4 linked regions of the Homo sapiens genome follow. The protein of the gene in region 3 interacts with the protein of the main gene of each other region in a pairwise test. Each region holds a gene or a part of one and is shown on either strand. Other genes may lie near its edges.

Evidence for each region. The genes of interacting proteins can lie anywhere in the genome.
Region 1: the proteins of MAGEA4 (region 3) and ARNT2 interact in a two-hybrid assay, tested with the Homo sapiens proteins (one large-scale study listed by BioGRID and IntAct).
Region 2: the proteins of MAGEA4 (region 3) and UBXN6 interact in binary tests that used the Homo sapiens proteins (3 or more experiments, as listed by UniProt).
Region 4: the proteins of MAGEA4 (region 3) and TRIM69 interact in binary tests that used the Homo sapiens proteins (3 or more experiments, as listed by UniProt).

The regions. Positions count from the first base shown.
Region 1 is NC_000015.10:80,589,382-80,592,881, forward strand, and holds part of ARNT2 (aryl hydrocarbon receptor nuclear translocator 2), read left to right. Parts: intron 1-2,186; coding exon 2,187-2,323; intron 2,324-3,500. UniProt on the Homo sapiens protein: Transcription factor that plays a role in the development of the hypothalamo-pituitary axis, postnatal brain growth, and visual and renal function. Specifically recognizes the xenobiotic response element (XRE).
Region 2 is NC_000019.10:4,444,506-4,447,794, reverse strand, and holds the end of UBXN6 (UBX domain-containing protein 6), read left to right. Parts: exon of another isoform or gene 1-169; coding exon 170-245; exon of another isoform or gene 246-607; coding exon of another isoform or gene 608-690; exon of another isoform or gene 691-874; coding exon 875-959; exon of another isoform or gene 960-1,075; coding exon 1,076-1,295; exon of another isoform or gene 1,296-1,381; coding exon 1,382-1,512; exon of another isoform or gene 1,513-1,597; coding exon 1,598-1,746; exon of another isoform or gene 1,747-2,171; coding exon 2,172-2,297; 3' UTR 2,298-2,789; downstream 2,790-3,289. UniProt on the Homo sapiens protein: May negatively regulate the ATPase activity of VCP, an ATP-driven segregase that associates with different cofactors to control a wide variety of cellular processes.
Region 3 is NC_000023.11:151,922,889-151,925,670, forward strand, and holds the end of MAGEA4 (melanoma-associated antigen 4), read left to right. Parts: intron 1-323; exon of another isoform or gene 324-564; 5' UTR 565-636; intron 637-711; 5' UTR 712-776; coding exon 777-1,730; 3' UTR 1,731-2,282; downstream 2,283-2,782. UniProt on the Homo sapiens protein: Regulates cell proliferation through the inhibition of cell cycle arrest at the G1 phase. Also negatively regulates p53-mediated apoptosis.
Region 4 is NC_000015.10:44,743,028-44,746,527, reverse strand, and holds part of TRIM69 (E3 ubiquitin-protein ligase TRIM69), read right to left. Parts: intron 1-3,500.

The DNA.
Region 1 (3,500 bases), on a different chromosome or scaffold from region 3:
GGGAAGGAGAGGTAGGTATGTACTTTAAGGAGGAAGGGCTGAGGGCATTGATTTGTGATGGGCAAGCCCCAAGGAAACCATCATTGCAGCAGCATCCTGGGTGAGCCTGTGTGGCAGTCATCTTCCTGAATGCATAAGGACATTCCCCCAGTCTACCATGCCCTTCCTTCAGCACAGGTGGCTATGTCCCTCCACCCTTCTGCCAAGCAACATGGACCCACTGAAGGCCCCATCTTGTGCTCAGCCTCTGCAGGCTTCCAGAATGGGACAGGTGCCTGTCAGGTGGGAATTTCCTCGTAGCTCCAGCTGGCGATGCTACTGTTTTAACTTTGCCACAGTTGTGGACCCAGCCTTCCCTCTGCTAAGCCAATTAATGAGGCCAGTCGACACGATTCTATGAAAGAGTTCCTCCTGGCCCTTGGGGTCTTGTGTGGGATCATTAGGAAAAGACATTTCACATAGGCAGATGAATTTTTTATAGCAGAATCCTATGTGCACAGTAGATTTAAATCTCTCTTATGCTAAGGAGGGGAATGTACCCTGCCTCAATTTTATAGAATTCCTTACCAACTATTGTCATCATGTAGAGTTTGAAAAGCACCAATGGTAAGGCATTAAAGGGACCTTATGCATTTTATTAAAGCCCTTTATGTCTCAGGCATTATATATGGGTGGATGGGTGGGAGAGAGAGCGAGGGAGAGAGAGAGATTCTTCTCCCTGAACACTTTCTAACCTGGCCTCACATTAACGCAGTGCCCAGGCTGGGGGTTGGGTGGGGCCTGAGGCTTCCCCGTGGCCAGCATGATCGTTGGAAAGAGTAGTATGGGACAAGATGGGGCTTCTCTTGCCACCCAGAGCTTGACAGAGAGCCCATTATCTCCAAAATGGTACTGAATGATTTGAAACAAGAAAAAAAGCTTCTAAGATTTTTGATGTTCCTTAAAGGTATCTTCTCTGAAGGTATTTTTTTAAGCCTCCTCTTTGGTTGAATCTCAAAAACGTTTTTAGACAAAATTCCACTTACTGGATCCTCTTTGGTTGAATCTCAAAAATGTTTTTCGACAAAAAACCACTTACTGGATAGGCACAGTGGCTCACTCATCCCAGCACTTTGGGAGGCCAGAGCAGGGGGACTGCATGAGGCCAGGAGTTTGAGACCAACCTGGGCAACAGAGCCAGACCCCATCTCTAAAAAAAAAATGTTTTTTAATTAGTCAGGCAATGTGGCATGAGCCTGTAGTCCCAGCTATGAGGGAGGCTGAGGCTGGAGGATTGGTTGAGCCCAGGATTTCAAGGCTGAAGTGAGCCATGATTGCACCACTGCATTCCAGCCAGGGCAGTGGAATAAGACTCTTTCTCGTATGTAAAAAACCAATTCCACTTATGTTTCCTATTTTTTGTTTTCTTCCATTGGCTGTTTTTTTGTATAAACTGTAGACAGAAGCAAAGTGGCTCTCATTTATAAATGAATTTGCTGATTCCCACAGAGGAACCTTATCTTGTCTGACCAGTGCCCAAATTTCTTCCCCTGCAAACAAACTGACGCAAAGAAAACACTCTGCCAAAGAGCCAGGCAGGAAAAGACTGTGGTGCTTGGCCCTGTAGGGGGACCTTGTATAATGCGTGTGTGGCTTCCGAGGAGTTGCTCGGGGGCAGAGGCTGAGGTTGGGAATGCCAAGATGAGGCTTTTCCTCTAGCAGGGCCAGATGCCTTTCAAGAGCATTCGGTGGACCGAGAGGGAATCAGGAGCAGGGGCAGGTGTGTCTTCCTCCTCATGCCAACACCATACTGCTGAGGACAGACCCTCTCTCAGCCCACACTCTGCATGCAACAGATATGCCCCTTGCCCCCCAGATGCCCGCAGGAGGCCTTTGTGCACAGTCACCAAGTGCAAGGAGCACTCCAAGGCTTAAAGCACCTAGTCACCTGGCAGGTGACCTCAGGAAGAGCCATCCTCTCTGGCCAAGTACCTGCACCATTGGGCAAAGGGCTCCTGTGTCTCTTATCCACTCCATTTATGATCTGTCAGCCAGTGAGAAAGACGAGGATAGCAAACACATTCCGCCAGCTCTGGATGGAACGTGCCTTTCAGAAGCGGGAGGCCCTCCAGCCGCAGTGGTTCTTAGGTCTCACAGAACCACGGGATGGCTTTTAAAGGAAGTGTCCTGTGTGTCGAATCTTTCAGCTGAAAGTGGACAAAGTAGCGGGCAGTTCCAAGGGCGGCCCTCGGAAGTCTGGTCGCAGTGGCAAAGCCAGCACCATGGCCAGCAGAGCGGTGAGCAGCACTCCCACCAGCAGCCCGGTCAGACTGAAGTGTTCCAGGTAAATCGAGCGAGCACCGCCTTCTCGTAGGTACCGGCGCCTTCTCTCTGCTTCCTTTCCCCCTCGGTCTCTGCCGCACCACCGCCTGCCCGATAGCCGTCGTGAGTTCTGGCCCAGCCTGGGCTCGAGGGAGTCCAGGAGTAGAAAGCCCCATCCTACCCAGCCAGAAACGTCAGGTGCATGTGGGAAGGAGAAGGGGCTGATGTAGCCTTCGAGCTAAGCCACACAATAGAGGAGGCTGCAGTTGGAGATGCTTCCCAGACTCCAGAGCTATCCAGGGTAGAGGCACAAAACCAAGGCCAAAGGGGGTCTCTCCTAAGAGCTGCAGGCACCCCCAGGCTTGGCTGTCTGTCACTGGCTGACCCTCTTTCTTCCCACCGTAGCCCCCAGGATGTGGAGGACATCCCCACCCAGGCCCTTGCTCAGTGCCAGCCTTGCCCTGGCTCTGCTCTCCTCTGTGGTTAAGCTCAGGGAGAGTCCCCGATTGAGGATACCTGGGCACCTTGAAACTCTCCATTATTTGAGACCTTTCTAGACCATCCCTCGTGTCTAAGGCAGACTGTGTGGCTGGGGATGGCACTGCTGCAGCCCCACAGAGCAGGCCCCTGCCCTTTGTGGGCTTCCTTGGCTCAACTTTCAGCCAGAAACATTCCTACTGGAAGGCTTCAAATGGAGGTACGAGCCCATTAACTCCCCTTCAGCCATCCCTCCAGGTCCTTCTAACAGGAACCCAGGCACGTCCTGCATGCCCCAGGCCTGCCCTGCAAAGCAATGATAGGGGCAGGAACCACATCGTGGGAGGGTTCTGAGACTCCCAGGATTGCAACCCCTCCTTCTCAAGAATCAGTGCTCCATATACCCCACCCTCATCCCAAGCCCCTCTCCTGCCGGGGTCAGCTGTGTCTTCACAGACAAAGGCCTGGGACTCAGATGTCACTCAGGGCAGCATTCTGTGAATGTACAGGGGAACGGCTCACCCAGGCCTTCGCCTGCCTCCCCTGACTGCAGCCATCTCCTCCTTCCTCCTTCTGTAAGGCCTTGTTCCTTGCCCATTCTGAGGCCCCACAGCAACCCTGTAAGGCAGAATTTCCTGACATGGATCTTCATGGTCACGATGCTAAAAAGAATTCTTGGCCAAATAAGCTTACGAAAAACTGGTTAAACAAAGTTATTGAGT
Region 2 (3,289 bases), on a different chromosome or scaffold from region 3:
GTGTGCCTTCCACCCGGAGATGGTCTGCTGCCCTCGCGTCACTGGGCCGCTTCTTCCCTCTGACTAGAGGCCAAGTGTGGCTGAGCTGCTGTTACCTGGAGCAGGAGGCACAGAGGGGCCGGGTGGGCAGCCTGGGCTGTGCCCCACTCACCTTCTCCACCTACCCCAGGTACCTGGACAACATCCACCTGCACCCCGAGGAGGAGAAGTACCGGAAGATCAAGCTGCAGAACAAGGTGTTTCAGGTGGGCGTGCCTTCTGGCCCCCGGGGCCCAGGCTGGGGGTGGGGGCAGCTGGCCTGCAGGAGCCGGTGGTGGCCCACACCAGGCGGTGGGCTCCCTGGAGGAGCTAGCGAGAGTTGAGCCACAAGCAGTGAAGGGTTCGGCCAGTAGAAGGTAGCAGGACAAGATGGAGAGCAAGACTTTTATGCACCGGTCACCCCAAATCAACAAATTCTGCCTCTCCTCACCTGCATCCTTTTCCTCCTCTTCAGCTGGGCTTGTTTGGGAACATGTCGACTCTGGGGAGGTTTCTCATGCAAACCAGATGTCTGGTTCTTCTGGGGGAAAGGGCAGGGACTGGGGTCCTGGGCGGTGTTAGCCTCGCATCAGGCCCCAGCAGTGTCTGGCTCCTCAGCCTCACTCTTCGTGCCTGGTTGTGACTCTTTCCTCTGTGCAGAGCTGTTGGAGACTCCACAGCCCCCACCGTAGAAAAGCAGGTTTGCATCCAGCACTGAGGCACCCCCAGGGCTGGGCCCCATCCAGGGGTCGACAGCTGCTCCCAATAGCGAGAGCCGGGCCCCTGGACTGGGTGGGGTGTGGCCAGGCCATGGAGGAAGCCAGGGGCCCCCAGTGACGCCCATCTCCACCCCCAGGAGCGCATTAACTGCCTGGAAGGGACCCACGAGTTTTTTGAGGCCATTGGGTTCCAGAAGGTGTTGCTTCCCGCCCAGGATCAGGGTAAGTGGACAGGGCCTGGCTGAGTAGGGAATGGGGACGAGGGGCCTCGGGGCAGGAGGGCCCGGCTTGGGGGTCTCTCCATTGCACAGTGACACCCATGTCCTGCCACGCTGTAGAGGACCCCGAGGAGTTCTACGTGCTGAGCGAGACCACCTTGGCCCAGCCCCAGAGCCTGGAGAGGCACAAGGAACAGCTGCTGGCTGCGGAGCCCGTGCGCGCCAAGCTGGACAGGCAGCGCCGCGTCTTCCAGCCCTCGCCCCTGGCCTCGCAGTTCGAACTGCCTGGGGACTTCTTCAACCTCACAGCAGAGGAGATCAAGCGGGAGCAGAGGCTCAGGTGGGCCTGACGTCCGCGGAGCAGAGTGGGGCGGGGCGGGGTGGAAGAACCCCGGCCAGCCCTCGTGACCTGGCCCGCGTGTGCAGGTCCGAGGCGGTGGAGCGGCTGAGCGTGCTGCGGACCAAGGCCATGCGGGAGAAGGAGGAGCAGCGGGGGCTGCGCAAGTACAACTACACGCTGCTGCGCGTGCGCCTCCCCGATGGCTGCCTCCTGCAGGGTGGGCACCAACGATGCCCGTGGAGGGCGGCTCGGGTTGGTAGGGGGCCCTGGGCCCCACCCGCTCTGACTCCCCCACTCCCCAGGCACTTTCTACGCTCGGGAGCGGCTGGGGGCGGTGTACGGGTTCGTCCGGGAGGCCCTGCAGAGCGACTGGCTGCCTTTTGAGCTGCTGGCCTCGGGAGGGCAGAAGCTGTCCGAGGACGAGAACCTGGCCTTGAACGAGTGCGGGCTGGTGAGTGTCGGCCCGCAGGAGCACCGCTGACCCGATGCCTCTGCAGGTTCTCCTGGGACCGGCACAGACACCCCCAGGAGGGAGCCTCCTTGTTCTCAGAGCAGGGGGCCTGGGCAGGTCCCTGGGTTTGAATCCTGCTTTCCCACTTACTGGCAGCAGGGCCTCGAGCAAGTTCATAACTACTCCACGCCTCAGTTTCCCCATCAAATGGGAGCGGTGACGTGCGTTAGCTAGTGCAGTAGGTTTAGGCTTAGGTCCTGGAGTCCCGGAGGGAGAGGGCAGGAGGCCTGGGTGCGAGCCACAGCCTCCACCAGCTGAGATGGCTTCCAGGCCGGGGCATCCCCGCGCCCAGGTTGCCCGCTGAGTTCCCTGCCGCGGCAAGGGCCGACTCTCGGTCTCAGAGTGACGGCCTACCCCTACCGCAGGTGCCCTCTGCCCTCCTGACCTTCTCGTGGGACATGGCTGTGCTGGAGGACATCAAGGCCGCGGGGGCCGAGCCGGACTCCATCCTGAAACCCGAGCTCCTGTCAGCCATCGAGAAGCTCTTGTGAAATAAAAGCAGGGTTGGCCTCAGCCCTGTGGGTCTGTCTCATGCTCTCCCTGTTCCTCTCCCCGCCACCCCAGGGCCTCCAAGCCACCTCTGGAAATACTTGGCTCTGCCCCATGGGCACGGGAGGGGCGCCAGCCGTGGAGCTGTGGAATTGGGCCCCGTGGCAGAGCCCCCATCCCTTGGGGGCTGTGGGGATGCGCCCAAGCCCCCGAGGGAGAGGCCTGGGGACACCAACAAATCTAAGCCCTCCCTAGCTGCTTGGTAACTGTGTCATGAAGCTGCCGGACAGACACACGTGGCATCTCCCTGGGCAGGAGAGCAGGCCTGCAGCATGGGTCCTGTTCCCGTGTGCCGTGGGTGGCAGTGGCTGCACCTGGCACTAGGGCTGCTCTGTGGATGTGGGTGACAACGGCAGGAGGGGATGCTGGCCTTCCTGCACATAGACCTGCAGTTAGTAAATCATAAGCCCAAATAAACAGGTTGTTTGAATATAGTTTCTTGGTTCTCCGTTGAAACCGTGGGACACAGGGCAGGCCCACCTGCTGAAGAGCGGATGGCTTGGGGGCTGGGTGTGGCTCCCTGTCAAGGTGGGACCATGTGGATACCTGTTCTCAGGCCAGCACCTGGCCACAAGTGCCCGATGAGCCACCCACCTGGGGAGGAAGTCCCGTGCGCTAGGGGAGGCTGTGCTGTGCCCACAAAGGCCCAGTCCCTGCAGGGGAGGCGAGTGCTGTCACAGGCCTGGCTTCCCTGTGGCCAGAGGGACAGGGTGTCCTGAGACGGCCACATCCTATTCCTGGAACCTGCAGATGCGCAACTTCACCTGGCAAGAGGGGCTTGGGTATGATGAAAGGTCTTGAGCTGGGAGATGATCCTGGGTGGTCCGGGACCCAGTGTCCTCACAAGAGGTGGCAGGAGGGTGAATCAGAGAGAGACTGGAAGAGGCTGCGCATGGCTGTGAAGGTGGAGGAAGGGACCCCGAGCTGAGGGATG
Region 3 (2,782 bases):
GGACACATGGGTTCCAATGAATTTCGACATCTTTTGCTGTCGTTCTTCGGAAGACCTAGGCACAGGTGGCCAGATGTGGGGTTTCTTAGGTCCTGTTCCCTCTCAGGCATGTGAGCTCTTGATCTGAGTTTCTCAGGCCAGCAAAAGAGTGGGATCCAGGCCCTGCCTGGAGAAATGTGAGGGCCCTGAGTGAACACAGTGGGGATCATCCACTCCATGAGAGTGGGGACCTCACAGAGTCCAGCCTACCCTCTTGATGGCACTGAGGGACCGGGGCTGTGCTTACAGTCTGCACCCTAAGGGCCCATGGATTCCTCTCCTAGGAGCTCCAGGAACAAGGCAGTGAGGCCTTGGTCTGAGACAGTGTCCTCAGGTTACAGAGCAGAGGATGCACAGGCTGTGCCAGCAGTGAATGTTTGCCCTGAATGCACACCAAGGGCCCCACCTGCCACAAGACACATAGGACTCCAAAGAGTCTGGCCTCACCTCCCTACCATCAATCCTGCAGAATCGACCTCTGCTGGCCGGCTATACCCTGAGGTGCTCTCTCACTTCCTCCTTCAGGTTCTGAGCAGACAGGCCAACCGGAGGACAGGATTCCCTGGAGGCCACAGAGGAGCACCAAGGAGAAGATCTGTAAGTAAGCCTTTGTTAGAGCCTCTAAGATTTGGTTCTCAGCTGAGGTCTCTCACATGCTCCCTCTCTCCGTAGGCCTGTGGGTCCCCATTGCCCAGCTTTTGCCTGCACTCTTGCCTGCTGCCCTGACCAGAGTCATCATGTCTTCTGAGCAGAAGAGTCAGCACTGCAAGCCTGAGGAAGGCGTTGAGGCCCAAGAAGAGGCCCTGGGCCTGGTGGGTGCACAGGCTCCTACTACTGAGGAGCAGGAGGCTGCTGTCTCCTCCTCCTCTCCTCTGGTCCCTGGCACCCTGGAGGAAGTGCCTGCTGCTGAGTCAGCAGGTCCTCCCCAGAGTCCTCAGGGAGCCTCTGCCTTACCCACTACCATCAGCTTCACTTGCTGGAGGCAACCCAATGAGGGTTCCAGCAGCCAAGAAGAGGAGGGGCCAAGCACCTCGCCTGACGCAGAGTCCTTGTTCCGAGAAGCACTCAGTAACAAGGTGGATGAGTTGGCTCATTTTCTGCTCCGCAAGTATCGAGCCAAGGAGCTGGTCACAAAGGCAGAAATGCTGGAGAGAGTCATCAAAAATTACAAGCGCTGCTTTCCTGTGATCTTCGGCAAAGCCTCCGAGTCCCTGAAGATGATCTTTGGCATTGACGTGAAGGAAGTGGACCCCGCCAGCAACACCTACACCCTTGTCACCTGCCTGGGCCTTTCCTATGATGGCCTGCTGGGTAATAATCAGATCTTTCCCAAGACAGGCCTTCTGATAATCGTCCTGGGCACAATTGCAATGGAGGGCGACAGCGCCTCTGAGGAGGAAATCTGGGAGGAGCTGGGTGTGATGGGGGTGTATGATGGGAGGGAGCACACTGTCTATGGGGAGCCCAGGAAACTGCTCACCCAAGATTGGGTGCAGGAAAACTACCTGGAGTACCGGCAGGTACCCGGCAGTAATCCTGCGCGCTATGAGTTCCTGTGGGGTCCAAGGGCTCTGGCTGAAACCAGCTATGTGAAAGTCCTGGAGCATGTGGTCAGGGTCAATGCAAGAGTTCGCATTGCCTACCCATCCCTGCGTGAAGCAGCTTTGTTAGAGGAGGAAGAGGGAGTCTGAGCATGAGTTGCAGCCAGGGCTGTGGGGAAGGGGCAGGGCTGGGCCAGTGCATCTAACAGCCCTGTGCAGCAGCTTCCCTTGCCTCGTGTAACATGAGGCCCATTCTTCACTCTGTTTGAAGAAAATAGTCAGTGTTCTTAGTAGTGGGTTTCTATTTTGTTGGATGACTTGGAGATTTATCTCTGTTTCCTTTTACAATTGTTGAAATGTTCCTTTTAATGGATGGTTGAATTAACTTCAGCATCCAAGTTTATGAATCGTAGTTAACGTATATTGCTGTTAATATAGTTTAGGAGTAAGAGTCTTGTTTTTTATTCAGATTGGGAAATCCGTTCTATTTTGTGAATTTGGGACATAATAACAGCAGTGGAGTAAGTATTTAGAAGTGTGAATTCACCGTGAAATAGGTGAGATAAATTAAAAGATACTTAATTCCCGCCTTATGCCTCAGTCTATTCTGTAAAATTTAAAAAATATATATGCATACCTGGATTTCCTTGGCTTCGTGAATGTAAGAGAAATTAAATCTGAATAAATAATTCTTTCTGTTAACTGGCTCATTTCTTCTCTATGCACTGAGCATCTGCTCTGTGGAAGGCCCAGGATTAGTAGTGGAGATACTAGGGTAAGCCAGACACACACCTACCGATAGGGTATTAAGAGTCTAGGAGCGCGGTCATATAATTAAGGTGACAAGATGTCCTCTAAGATGTAGGGGAAAAGTAACGAGTGTGGGTATGGGGCTCCAGGTGAGAGTGGTCGGGTGTAAATTCCCTGTGTGGGGCCTTTTGGGCTTTGGGAAACTCCATTTTCTTCTGAGGGATCTGATTCTAATGAAGCTTGGTGGGTCCAGGGCCAGATTCTCAGAGGGAGAGGGAAAAGCCCAGATTGGAAAAGTGCTCTGAGCGGTTCCTTTGTGACAATGGATGAACAGAGAGGAGCCTCTACCTGGGGCAGGAATGGAAGGTGTCTTGCGCTTTTGTCCCAGTGTTGTTGAACACAGTGCATGAGCTAGGTGATGGACACCCGTTATTTGCAAGGGTTTCCTGTGA
Region 4 (3,500 bases), on a different chromosome or scaffold from region 3:
GATTTCTTTTTTTATATACAATTATTGGTTTATGCTATTATCTTTTAAAACTTTAGAAAAAAAAGAAGAGTTACAAACCAAAAATAGGTAGTTCTTTGATGAGTGCTTTTTTTATGTCTTTGTCTGGGTTCAAGTTATTGTCTAATGTCCCTTCATTTCAGCTTGAAGAAGTCCCTTTGTCATTTTTTGTAGGTAAGATCTACTAGAGATAAGCTCAGTTTTTGTCTGTCTGAGAATGTCTTAAATTCTTCTTCATATTGGAAAGATAGTTTGGCCAGATACAAAATTCTTTGTGGATTATTCAATTACTTTGAAGATGTCATCCCATTGCTCTCTGGCTTCCATGATTTCTGATGAAAAATTAGCTGTTAACTTATTGAGGCTCTCTTGTACATAAGTCACTTCACTCTTGCTACTTTTAAGATTATTTTTGGCTTTTAATAGTTTAATTATAACTTGGTGTGGCTCTCTGTTAACTTACATAGAGTTTGTTGAGCTTCTTTGATGTATAGCTTTATGCCTTTTGTCAAATTTCAAAAGTTTTAAACCATTATTTCCTTAAGCATTCTTTCTGTCCCCTTCTCTCCTCTCTTCTGGGACTCCAACTATGCATAACAGTCCCACAGGTTTCTGAGGCTCTGCTCATTTTTATTCATTCTTTTTTTTCCCTGATCTTCAGCATAATCTCAATTGACCTATTTTCAGTTTCATGAATTCTTTCTTTTGCCTGCTCAAATCTGATTTGAACACTTCTTGCGAATTTCTCATTTCAGTTATTATGCTTTTCAACACCATAATTTCTCTTTGGTTCCTTTTTATAACTTCTACATCTTTGCTGGTATTCACTATTTGGTGAGACATCAGTCTCATGGTTTCCTTATTTGCAAATTGTTTCCTTTAGCTATTTGAGAATATTTAAAATAATTGATATAAAATCTTTGTCTAGTGAGTCCAATGTCTGAGCTTCCTCAGGAATAGTTTCTATTAATTTCCTTTTCTCCTGTCCATGGGCCATATGTTCTTATTTATTTATACTTGTTGAATATCCGATACTTTGACAAGTATAATGTGAAATCTCTGGAAATCAGAATCTTCCACCTTCTCTGGGGTTTTTTGTTACTTCTTGTTGTAGTTGTTTTGTTTAGTTAGTGACTTTTCTAAACAAATTTTGTAAAGTCTGTATTCTTCGTCACATGTAGCTACTGAATTCTGTCCCATGAACTTAGTAGTCATCTAATAGTTCAACAGAGATTTCCTTAAATGCCTAGAATCAACCCAAATCAAACAACAACAACAACAAAAACCTCCCAGTCTTTGTAAATGGGCTTCGTATATGTTGAGCATGCCTTCAACACACAGTTTACAACTTCCTTAGTCCTCAGTTCCTGCTTACACAGATCCTAAAAGTCACTCCGAGAAGAAAACTTGGGGTCTTTCTCAGGTTTTTTTTTTTTTTTTAGTATGCACTCAGTCCTGGGCATGCAGTTGGCCTTCTAGATTACCAGGAATATGTGGGTACTTTTCAAAGGGTATTCCCCAAAATAACTCTTTCCCCAGCCTTTCTTTCTCAGCTTTTTGGTTACTCTATTGTTTGCCCCAACTATTATGCCTTTCCCCAGGTGGCAGCAATAAAAACATTTGCTTTTAAATGTTTCCAAACTATACCTCCAGGGTAGCCATCTCATCTGTGAAAAAGTTCTGAGTTAAACAAACTAATGGCAAGCCTTTTATGTAATACTTCATGGAAGCACCAGACAGGTCAAAGCCACAGTTCTTTGGGAATAAGGTCCATGCTGCTCCCACTTGTACTATGTACCTGTAGTTGGAATGTCAGCTGTCTTTAAAACCACCACCAAGATGGGAAATGAGGAAAACCTGAGTAAGTTAAAGTGTTAAAAAGTTATTTTACAGAGATTCAAGGTTTTATTTAATTATTATTAAATATTTCCCTGGTTGCTGTAAGCTTTTGATTAGTTTCAAGTTTTAAAAAACTCGATCTTCAAAATTTTTGCCAGTTTTTGTGGAGGGATGGACTTTGGGACTTCTCTACTCCACCATTTTTTTTATTATTATTATACTTTAAGTTTTAGGGTACATGTGCACAATGTGCAGGTTAGTTACATATGTATACATGTGCCATGTTGGTGTGCTGCACCCATTAACTCATCATTTAGCATTAGGTATATCTCCTAATGCTATCCCTCCCCCCTCCCCCCACCCCACAACAGTCCCCAGAGTGTGATGTTCCCCTTCCTGTGTCCATGTGTTCTCAGTGTTCAATTCCCACCTATGAGTGAGAACATGCAGTGTTTGGTTTTTTGTCCTTGCAATAGTTTACTGAGAATGATGATTTCCAATTTCATCCATGTCCCTAAAAAGGACATGAACTCATCATTTTTTATGGCTGCATAGTATTCCATGGTGTATATGTGCCACATTTTCGTAATCCAGTCTATCATTGTTGGACATTTGGGTTGGTTCCAAGTCTTTGTTATTGTGAATAGTGCCACAATAAACATACATGTGCATGTGTCTTTATAGCAGCATGATTTATAGTCCTTTGGGTATATACCCTGTAATGGGATTGCTGGGTCAAATGGTATTTCTAGTTCTAGATCCCTGAGGAATCACCACACTGACTTCCACAATGGTTGAACTAGTTTACAGTCCCACCAACAGTGTAAAAGTGTTCCTATTTATCCACATCCTCTGTAGCACCTGTTGTTTCCTGACTTTTCAATGATGCCATTCTAACTGGTGTGAGATGGTATCTCATTGTGGTTTTGATTTGCATTTCTCTGATGGCCAGTGATGGTGAGAATTTTTTCATGTGATTTTGGCTGCATAAATGTCTTCTGAGAAGTGTCTGTTCATGTCCTTTGCCCACTTTTTGATGGGGTTGTTTTTTTCTTGTAAATTTGTTTGAGTTCATTGTAGATTCTGGATATTAGCCCTTTGTCAGATGAGTAGGTTGCGAAAATTTTCTCCCATTTTGTAGATTGCCTGTTCACTCTGATGGTAGTTTCTTTTGCTGTGCAGAAGCTCTTTAGTTTAATTAGATCGCATTTGTCAATTTTGGCTTTTGTTGCCCTTGCTTTTGGTGTTTTAGACATGAAGTCCTTGCCCATGCCTATGTCCTGAATGGTAATGCCTAGGTTTTCTTCTAGGGTTTTTATGGTTTTAGGTCTAATGTTTAAGTCTTTAATCAGTCTTGAATTAATTTTTGTATAAGGTGTAGGGAAGGGATCCAGTTCCAGCTTTCTACATATGGCTAGCCAGTTTTCCCAGCACCATTTATGAAATAGGGAATCCTTTCCCCATTGCTTGTTTTTCTCAGGTTTCCAAAGGTTAGATAGTTGTAGATATGCGGCATTATTTCTGAGGGCTCTGTTCTGTTCCATTGATCTCTATCTCTGTTTTGGTACCAGTACCATGCTGTTTTGGTTACTGTAGCCTTGTAGTATAGTTTGAAGTCAGGTAGCATGATGCCTCTAGCTTTG